2 linked regions of the Homo sapiens genome follow. The protein of the gene in region 2 purifies or fractionates together with the protein of the main gene of each other region. This does not show direct contact. Each region holds a gene or a part of one and is shown on either strand. Other genes may lie near its edges.

Region 1 (5,041 bases), on a different chromosome or scaffold from region 2:
GAATTAACTCTCACAAAGATATTATTTTTAAAAACCCCACAGCAATAGCATTATATAATTAGAGCTATACTGTACCATCATCGATAGTCCCGACTTTGGTATCTCTTTTCTTAGTCTTCTTTTTTGCAGCTTTTTGAAAAGGTGCAAATTCTACTATAGCGGGATATTCCTGACCTGTTTAGAAAAAAAATACCACACTTGCTATAACAAAGAAAATGTCAAAAGTGGATATAAGGGAATCAACCCATTGCTTTCTATGACTCTTTTGATGGCAGTCATCTGAAGAGGGTCTCCCAAAGGCATAAAGCACACTGGCACAACCATAATCAACATACTACAAAAGGAGCCACAAATTCACACTGATAACATAGTGAAACAACACGGCATGAAAGTAAAATATTCATATAAATTCAACTTATAAAATGTGATATTTTAATGTGAAAAAGACCCTACAAACTATTTTTCATTTTAAAATGTTAGAAATCTCCAAAATAGGCAAATCTATAGAGACAGAACGTAGAGTAGTAGCTGCCTGGAGTTTGGGGTAGAAGTGGTGAGAAGAATGAGGAGTGACAACTAATGGGTGGGGTTTCTCTTAGGGGTGATGAACATGTTCTAAATTTAGATTGTGGTGATAGGCTCATAAGCCTATGAATATACTAAAATTCACTGAACTGTATACTTTAAAAGGGTGACTATTTCAGGCATGTGAATTATATCTCAATAAAGCTGTTATTTTTTAAAAGTGTAACTATTTGAGGTGATGTGTTATGTGAGGTGATGAATGTGTTAACTTGATTGTATATATTTCATAATGTATATATGTATACATTATGTATACATTTCATAATGTATATATGTATACAATATGTATACATTTCATAATGTATACATTTCATAATGTATACATATATAAAATTATCACGTTGGGCTGGGCACCGTGGCTTATGCCTATAATCCCAGCATTTTGGGAGGCCGAGATGAGAGGATCACCTGAGGTCAGAAGTTTGAGACCTGCCTGGCCAACATGGTGAAACACTGTCTCTACTAAAAATACAAAAATTAGCTGGGCGTGGTGGCACGTGCCTGCAATCCCAGCTACTCTGGAGGCTGAGGCATGAGAATCACTTGAACCCAGGAGGCAGAGATTGCAGTGAGCCGAGATCATGCCACTGCACTCCAGCCTGGGCGACAGAGTAAGACTCCGTCTCAAAAAAATAAATACATAAAAATAAAAATAAATAAAAATACAAAAATTAGCCAGGCGTGATAGTGCACGCCTGTAATCCCAGCTACTTGGGAGACTGAGGCAGGAGAATCACTTGAACCTGGGAGGCGGAGGTTGCAGTAAGCTGAGATTGTGCCACTGCACTCGAGCCTGGTAAAAAAAAAAAAAAAAAAAGAAAAAGAAAAAAGAAAAAACAATTATTACATAGTAAAATTTAAATATATATTATTTTATTTGTCAATTATAGCTCAATAAAGCTGGGGAAAAATCTGTTAACACTTAAAAAAAAATACACCAGGACACCAAAAGCACAGGCAACAAAAGTAAAAATACAGAGGGTAGATCTCATGTTAAGTGTTCTTACCACAATAAAACAAAAATATAAAGTATATCTCTTATTTAAAAAAAGTAAAAAATAGATAAATTGGACTACGTCAAAATTAGAAACTTCTATGCATCAAAAGACACAATCAACAGAGTGAAAAGGCAACCCATGGAATGGGAGAAATATTTGCAAATTATATTATCTGATAAGGGGTAATATCGAGAATATATAAAGAACTCCTATAACTCAACAACAAAAAACCAAATAACCCAATTTAAAAAATGGTCAAAAGACTTGAATAGACATTTCTTCAAAGATAATATACAAATGGCTAACAAGCATATGGAAATATGTTCCACATTACTAGTCATTAGGGAAATGCAAATCAAAACCACAATGAGGTATCATCTCACGCCTATTAGGAGGACTACTATCAAAAAGCAGAAAATAACAAGTGTTGGCAAAGATGTGGAGAAACTGGAACACTCATGTATTGGTGGGAATGTAAAATGATGCAGCTGCATGGAAAACAGTATGGCAGTTCCATAAAACATTAAAAATAGAATTATTGGGCCAGCCTGACTAACATGGTAAAACCCCATCTCTACTAAAAATACAAAAATTAGCTGGGTGTGGTGGTGGGCACCTGTAATCCCAGCTACTCAGGAGGCTGAGGCAGGAGAATTGCTTGAACCCAGGAGGTGGAGGTTGCAATGAGGGAAGATCGCGCCATTGTACTTACTCCAGCCTGGGCAATGAGGGCGAAATTCCATCTCAAAAAAACAAAACAAAACAAAAAAGAACTACCGGCGGGGCACAGTGGCTCACACCTGTAACCTCAGCACTTTGAGAGGCCGAGGTGGGCGCATCACTTGAGGTCAGGAGTTTGAGACCAGCCTGGCCAACATGGTGAAACTCCGTCTCTACCACAAACATAAAAAATTAGCAGGGTGTGGTGGCAGGTGTCTGTAATCCCAGATACTTGGGAGGCTGAGGCAGGAGAATTGCTTGCACCTGGGAGGTGGAGGTTGCAGTGAGCCAAGATCATGCCACTGCACTCCAGCCTGTGTGACAGAGACTCTGTCTCAAAATAAATAAATAATAAAATAAAAATAGAATTACCAAATGACTCCAGAAATTCCATTTCTCGGTATATATCCAAAAGCAGTGAGAACAAGGACTCGAATATGTGCACATCTGTGTTCATAACAATATTGTTCACAATAGCCAAGAGTGGAAGCAACTCGAATACCCCTTGACAGATGAATGGATACACAAAATGTGGTATATACATATACTGGAATATTAGTCTTAAAAATGAGGCTGGGGGCAGTGGCTCATGCCTGTAATTCCTAGCATTTTGGGAGGCTGAGGCAGGCATGTCACTTCAGGTCAGGAGTTTGAAACTAGCCTGGCCAACACAGTGAAACCCCATCTTTACCAAAAGTACAAAAAAATTAGCCAGCTGTGGTGGTGGGTACCTGTAATCCCAGCTACTTGGGAGGCTGAGGCTGGAGAATTGCTTGAACCCAGGAAGCGGAGGTTGCAGTGAGCTGAGATCGCGCCACTGCATTCCAGCCTGGGCAACAAAGTGAGACTCCATCTCAAAAAAAAAAAAAAAAAAAAAAAAGATGAAAATTCTGACACATGCTACGACATGGATACACCTTGAAGATATTATGCTAAATGAAATAAGCCAGACAGACACTGTATGTTTCCACCTATATGTGGTACCTACAGTAGTGAAACTCATACAGACACAAGGTATAATGGTGGTTGCCAGGGGCTGGAGGAAGGGAAATAAGGAGTTGTTTAATGGGTAAAGAGTTTCAGTTTTTCAAGATGAAAAAGTTCCCAAGATTGTTGCACAACAGTGTGAATATACCTTAATGCTACTGAACTGTACACTTAAAATGGTTAAGATGGTAAATTTTATGTTACGTGTATTTTTACAATTTTTAAAAATGCAAAAGGAATGAGGTAATGATATATGTTATATGTTACAACATGGATGGACCTTGAAAACATTGTGCTAGGTAAAAGAAGCCAGTCAGAAAAGACCACATATTGTATGATTACATTTATATGAAATGGAGGGAAATCATAGATACATAAAGTAGATTAGTGGTTGCCAGGGGCTGGAGGGAGAGAATGGGAGGTAACTACTAATAGATATGGGTTTCTTTTTGGAGGGATGAAAACATTCTGGAATTAGTACTGATGGTTGTACTACCTTGTGAATATACCAGAAACCACTGAATTGTACGCTTTAAGAGGATGAATTTTATTATAGGTGAGTTATATTTCAATACAAAAACCCCAAGTGACTAATGGGAAAAAAATTCACAAGCACCCTGTCACAGAATGTCAAAAACAAGGTATCCTATCCTTAAATCATTGGCATGTAGACATAAGCAGAAAAATAAAAATAAACAGAATTGACCAGAAGGCACTGCAAAGCAGTCATGGAGGAAAAATTATGTTGGGAATCCCAGTGAGTAGAGAATCAGATTAGCTTCAAAACTGTGATATATTAGGCCAGGCATGGTGGCTCACGCCTGTAATCCCAGCACTTTGGGAGGCTGAGGCGGGTGGATTGCTTGAGGCCAGGAGTTTGAGACCAGCCTGGCCAACATGGTGAAACCCCATCTCCTAAAATTACAAAAATTAGCTGGGCGTGGCGGCACACACCTGTAATCCCAGCTAAGTCGGCAGGCTGAGGAACGAGAATTGCTTGAACCCAGGAGGCGGAGGTTGTAATGAGCCAAGATTGTGCCACTGTACTCCAGCCTGGGCGACAGAGTTAAGACTCTGTCTCAAAAAAAAAAAGAGAGAGAGAGAGAAGAAAAAGAAAAAAAACAAAAATAAAAACCAAAAAACAAAACTGTGATATATTTGAGAAGGAATAGATAAACCAGACTGAAACAGAGGGAAATTGTGGAAGACAGGCTGAAGAAACAGAAGTGAGGCCAGAATATGGAGGACCCTGACTACCAGGCTAAGGAGTTTGGACTTTTTCCCCCAACTGTTAATTTAAATCATTATTTTCAAAAAGATTAATTTCATGGCAATATAATAGACTGAATTATACAAGAATGAAAAAAATGGAAAATCCTGTAAGTTTAGAGACAGTGGTTGTCTAGGCATTAAGTGATGAGGACATAAAGTGTGACTGTTTAAGGCTAGGTGAACAAGATATTAAAAAAAAACAATAAAATCCAGCCTGGGCAACATAAGCAGACCTTGTCTCTAAGATTTAAAAACAAAACAAAACAAACAAACAAACAAAAAACACAATGAGGAAAGGATAGTCTCTTTAATAAGTGGTGTTGAGCTGGGTATGGTGGCTCGCACCTGTAATCCCAGCACTTTGGGAGGCTGAGGTGGGGGGGGGGAAATCACTTGAGCCCAGGAGTTCAAGACCAGCCTGGGCAACGTAGTGAGACCCCATCTCTATAAAAAATTTAAAGAAAATTAGCCAGGCATGG
Region 2 (6,208 bases):
TTTGAGACCAAGAAAAGCACACCCATGAAAGCCACTTCAATTCGCAAAGCATTTGGAATAGCCAAGGCAATTTTGAACACCAAAGTTGGAGAAATGAAACTACCACACGGAGGATTATGCAAAGCTACAATAATTAAGATACTGCAGCATTAGCACAAGGATAGAGAACAGGACAAATGAAATGAAATAGATTCCAGAAACACATATATACAATCATACCTGATTCACAGTTTCCACGGCAATACAGTAGGGAAGGAGTGGTCTTTTTAGTAAGTGGTGCTGATTGATTTTGGGTATGTATATGAAAAAATTAGTCTTCATGCCTTATCACACCATTAACAAAAAATCAGTTTGAGATGTCTCATCAAAACAGTAAAGCTTCTAGAACATAGAAGGAATATCTTTATGTCGTTTGTAGACAATTTCTTAAATAAGACTCATGAAAGATAAACCATAAAACCACGATTTAGATCCAAATATGGGACATTTCCAGTGCCCCAGCACCCTTCCCAGTCGACAGCCCAGTTTTTAAAAAGGTAGGAGGGGGCAAAACTTGAATAGACATTTAATAAAAAGAAATACTCACGTGGCCGATAACTATATAATCTCAAGGTCCATTAATCATCAGGGAAGTGCAAATTAAAGCCACAATAAGGTACCACTACAATTTCAAGAGAAGGGCACTTACTAAAAGGACTGACAGTACCAAGTGCTGGATCAGTAGCAATGGAATTCGCAGTATCGGTGGTGGGAATGTAAATCGTTTCAATCACTCTGGAAATGTATTTGGCAGTATCTACACTAGACAGCTAAATATATGCAGTTCCAGCACTTCTCATAGCTATATATACCCACGAGAAATGATTACATGCTTACCAAAAGACACGCACAAGCTCATAGCAGCTTTATTCAAAATTGCCAAAGAATCAGCCTCAAAGTCCATCAACAGTGAAATAAATTTATACAAAACTGCCACAGTCACTCAACAAAATTCTACCCAGCAATGAAAAAGAATGTGCTACTGCTACACACAGCAAAAATGCATCTCACTTATTTTATTTCATTTTACTTTATTTTGAGACAGTCATGCTCTGTCACCCAGGCTGGAGGGCAGTGGCGCGATCTCAGCTCAGTGCAAACTCCCCCCTCCCAGGTTCAAGCGATTCTCCTGCCTCAGCCTCCCGAGTAGCTGGGACTACAGGCGCCCACCACCACGCTTGGCTAATTTTTCTATTTTATGCAGAGAAGGGGTTTCACTATGTTGGCCAGCCTGGTCTCAAACTTCTGACCCCAAGTGATCCACCCACCTCAGTCTCCCAAAGTGCTGGGATTACAGGCATGAGCCATCACACCCAGCCATCTCACTTATTTTAAAAAGCCAAAGACAAGAATCTTTGTGTGATTCCATTTATTTAAAGTTCATGAACAAGAAAAACCTCTGAGGTCAGAATAAGGGATGCCCTGTTGGGAGCATTTGACTGGGAAAGGGCTCAAAGACTTTGGAGCTACTTCTTGACAATAGGGAGCTGATGAGATGTCACTGTAAAAAACAACCTGACAGTTGATGACATTGCTTGCTAGCATCTACAGCCACAATGCACATATGGCCTAGCCTCACTTCTGCCTTTCGGAACTCCTGGAAGTCAGTCGAACATATTTTCAGCTAGAATCCTTGCTGCAAGGGAGTCTGGAATCTCTAGTGTTCATAGCCGTCTTCTTTTTAGTTTTTACAGGAGAAGACTGAGGGTCAGTGTTGCTAACAATAACGGAAGCCATACCACTTGATCCTGGCTGAACTGAAGTTTGAATAATAACTTTTGTTTCACTAGGCAACCCTTGCAGTTGCTCCGGCTTTTTAAATGTTTGATGGTCCTTGGTTTTGTGCTCTATTTCCTCCTTCAACGTCAAAAACTGTAGCCGGCACTTGGAACACTGAAGGACCCTCCTTCTGCTGTGCCTCCAACAATGATTCATGTATGGTATTGCAGTTTTGAAAAGTTTGAGACAAAACAGACAAAGCAAATTCTTTGTGTTTTCATGGCACGTTCTAAAATGTGTTTCCACATCAGCAAAGACCGACGATCTGTAATGGCAAACCTGGCACACATAAGGCATTTCGCCAGGCTTATGATGGTCCTTCATGTGTTGTAAGAGGACCTGATCTGTTTCAAATGACAATTCACAGATTTTACAGACAGCAGAGGGCCCCATGGCGATGTGTACACTATCAATGTGACACTGTAGCTGGAAGGGAGTGGGAAACTGCCGGTGGCAGTGCTGGCAGGTGGTGTGGTCTTCCCAGCTGTCGTTCCTCTGCTTCTCAAATTCCAAATGATGCTTCATGTGATTCATAAACTTAATATTTTTTAGAACTTTCACGCAGCTGAGGCATTTAAAGGTGGTGTGAGTCTTCTGTTCCGGCTGCCCATCTCCTTTATGCTGTCCATAGTAAAAGTCGCTAAGTAACACGATGGGATTTTCTTTCTTGGGATCAAAGGTCTTGTTTTGACTTGCTAGACTTGAAATGTCTGTCATTGCCAGGGCAGACTCACTTGCTCTCTCTGGATCTGTAAGATTGAAATGTGCCTTTCCATTAGCATCAGGCCAAGGAAATGTTACTCCATTCTGAACATGGTTTGATGAGTTGCAGATCCCCTGTGAGGGTGTATTTGTGCTTATTGTAGAAGACATATCTGAAGGGACCACAGCTAAAGAAGGTACCCCTGGGATTCCATCCCTGAGTTTAACCCTTTTGGAATCTCTGCTGTTTATATCTGAAGTGGAAAGTCGCTTTGAATCAGGAGAACTCTCATTTCTGCCTCCTCCAGAGACCATAGCTCCAACTAGACACTGAGTCCCTGGGGGGAGCGAGTCTGAGGAACTGGGAGAAACAACTTGTGGTGAGCTCATTTTATAACCAGGTTCAGATGAAGACTTCATAGTGACAGGACTATCTGTCGATCGCCCCTCAGACAGAGAAACCGGCATGATGGCTTTTGCCATAGAGGTCACATGATTTGCAGGCTGCGACACGTGAGCAGGATATTGACGGAAGTGGCCTTTCTTTCTTCTTGAATTTGAGCCTGGGGTGACTCTGTTCAAAATGTTTGAAACGACTGGTTTTGAATTTGAAATCATCCCGACAAAGAGAACTTCAGCATCTCTATGTACATGCTCCACCCCAACATAGATCAGATCTGGATCTTCATCATCCTCCTCCCTTTGTTTGGATTCTCTCAAATTCTTCTTTGGTGATTCCACTTTCTTACACAAAAAGATATCTCCCATTTTCAATTTACTTTTTGCTTGAAGCCACTGGTCTCTTCAACTTCCAGAGCTGTCTTTTTACAAATTGCCACCTAAGTGCAACCATGTGACAATAGTCAATATTTATTTCGAAAGACAAAATCATTACTTTATTGTATCCTCCCTTAAAACACTGAGATAACCATCAACATCTCTATTTTACACGTCAGAAATGAGGCTTGAAACATTTTAAATGGCATAATAATTTCAAATTTACCTGTCTCTCCTCCCCTGGTCTTCTGCAGTTGTGAGGCAAAGGAAGCAAGATTTCAGGAGGTGCAGATGGAACATCTCAGAGTGCTTGCCTCTAAATTTTGCACTCTAGATGCCTCACTCACCTCCTCCTCATCCCACAGGTACTCTCTCAGATGTCTAAGGTTTCTAACCAACTTGAACAAAACTTCTCTCAAAAACATTCTGCTCCTAGCCTGGGCAACATAGCAAGACCCCATCTCTACAAAAAAATTTAAAAATTAAAAAAAATTAGCTTGGCATGGTGGTACACACCTGTGGTCCCAGCTACTTGGGAGGCTGAGCCAAGAGGAACACTTGAGCCCAGGACTTCAAAGCTATGTTCATGCCACTGCACTCCAGCCTGGGCAACCAAATGAGACCCCATCACACAAACACACACACACACAAATCACAGCACACACACACACACACACCCTTTGCTGTTCCTGTAATGTTCCTTTTCTCAGTAAACTCAGTTGCTCAGTCTACAAACTTCAGAGTCATCCTTTGCCAGACTTTCTCTCATACACTACAGCCAATCAATTAGCAAAGCTAGTCTGCTCTATCTTTTAAAGATATCCAGAATCTGACTACTCTCTTCCACATCTACTGCCACCTCCCTGATGGAAGGTACCATGTTCTCTCCCTGGATCACTGCAGAAGTTGCCAGTCTTAAAAGTTTTGTCAGATCTCCCCATGGTGGCCCCAATGCCCCTGTTAAAATATACAGGGGAGCAAGTATATTTCGCTCTTAAGTCTTCAATGACTTTCCATTTCATTCATAGGAAATACCAGCAAACTTTAAATTTCCCCATGGAACCTTAGGTCATCATCGCCCTTGCTAACTCCTCTGTTGCTCTGATGCAGCCATCCTGAGCTCCGTGAATCTGGAACACAGCAGGCCTTTTTCTTTTTCAGAACTTTTGTTGTTCCCGGACGTTGCGTGCCTCTTTCCCCAGATTAACCCCATCTGGGCTCCTGGTCTGCCTCAGTCCCATGGTTCCTCTTCAGCAAGGCTTACCTGACCACAATATCAAAAATCACAACCTCCTTAACTCATATGTTCAAACCCTCAATGTTATTTTTCAACTTAGCATTTATCACTGCCTACCACACAATATGTAAAATATATCTTGCAAGCCCAGGAGTTTGAGATTACAGTGAGATATATCATGTCACTGCATCCAGCCTGGGTGACAGAGGAAAGGAAGACTCTGTGTCTTAAAACAACAACAAAAAATGGGACAGGTGCAGTGGCTCGTACCTGTAATCCCAACACTTTGTAAGGCCAAGGCGGAAGGATTGCTTGAGGTCAGGAGCTCGAGACCAGCCTGGGCAACATAGCAAGACCCATCTCTACAAAAAATTTAAAAATATAACTTGTTTCTTTTCTGTGTTTACCCACTAAACTGTATGCCACACGAGGGCAGGGAGTTGTGTTTCATTTACTCCTCAGCTTATAGAGCAATGTCTGTCATACTGTGCATGCTAAATCTTTGTTAAATAAATAGTAGCTGTTATTAATATGATCATTTAGGTGTACCAGAGGCTCTAATCCATTATTCCAGATTCTCTAAGCATTTAATGAAATCCAAATCCAAATGATTTAATACTGTTGTACAAGGGAGAAGGTAAACCTGTGTGTATGTGTGTGTAAATTGAAACAAAAGTTTTGTCAAATACTCTAATACCTTCACCTTACCACAAGGGATAGGCTCTGATACCTTCTATGCCATATTTTATTGATTCTAAGGTATAGGCTTAGATTTCCATTTTAACATCTCTAAATCAGATTGCATCTCATCATAGCATCTCATCAATATAAAATACATTTCATAATTTGTTTTTGCAGTATATATTTTTATTTCATAGTGGAATCAAAAATGACATATCTCAGATCCTTTTGTGAGGATAAGCGTGATGCTTGGGTTTTCACTCATGTGAGATGTGCTTCCCTCAAACCTTGTTATATCAGCATGTTTAACATCTGATGTAAAAAAAAAAAAAAAGGAGAGTAATGTATCTTTTATAATTGATGGCATCTTTTTTTTTTTTTTTTTGAGATGGAGTCTCGCTCTGTCGCCCAGGCTGGAGTGCAGTGGTGCGATCTCGGCTCACTGCAGGCTCCGCCCCGCGGGGTTCACGCCATTCTCCTGCCTCAGTCTCCCGCGTAGCTGGGACTACAGGCGCCCGCCACCTCGCCCGGCTAATTTTTTGTATTTTTAGTAGAGACGGGGTTTCACCGTGTTAGCCAGGATGGTCTCGATCTCCTGACCTCGTGATCCGCCCGCCTCGGCCTCCCAAAGTGCTGGGATTACAGGCATGAGCCACTGTGCCCGGCCAATTGATGGCATCTTATAGTCAGTGAAAAATCCTATTTCTTTTTGTAAGCTGACAGCACACTAAACTTGTTTTGTAGTTCTCTAATGGATATCAGCTACATTTTGGCAAACAATGGTTTAAGACAGAAATTGGAAAATTGGCCCTTCCCCTGTTTTTGTACAGTCAGGAAGCCAAGAATGTTTCTTACATTTTTAAGGTATTGTTTTCTTACTTTTTTTTTATTAAGATTTTTTTAAACTTGTACATTTTTAAATTTGGGGGAATAAACATGCAAAAGGAAGCGGGGCGCGGTGGCTCACGCCTGTAATCCCAGCACTTTTGGGAG

Evidence for each region. Proteins that work in one complex are often made in the same cells at the same time.
Region 1: the proteins of ZNF280A (region 2) and UPF3B purify together in Homo sapiens (affinity purification with mass spectrometry; one large-scale study listed by BioGRID and IntAct). This does not show direct contact.

Annotation. Positions count from the first base shown.
Region 1 is NC_000023.11:119,845,123-119,850,163, forward strand, and holds part of UPF3B (regulator of nonsense transcripts 3B), read right to left. Parts: intron 175-5,041; coding exon 76-174; intron 1-75. UniProt on the Homo sapiens protein: Involved in nonsense-mediated decay (NMD) of mRNAs containing premature stop codons by associating with the nuclear exon junction complex (EJC) and serving as link between the EJC core and NMD machinery.
Region 2 is NC_000022.11:22,512,343-22,518,550, forward strand, and holds the end of ZNF280A (zinc finger protein 280A), read right to left. Parts: intron 5,534-6,208; exon of another isoform or gene 5,438-5,533; intron 3,360-5,437; 5' UTR 3,289-3,359; coding exon 1,660-3,288; 3' UTR 1,394-1,659; downstream 1-1,393. UniProt on the Homo sapiens protein: May function as a transcription factor.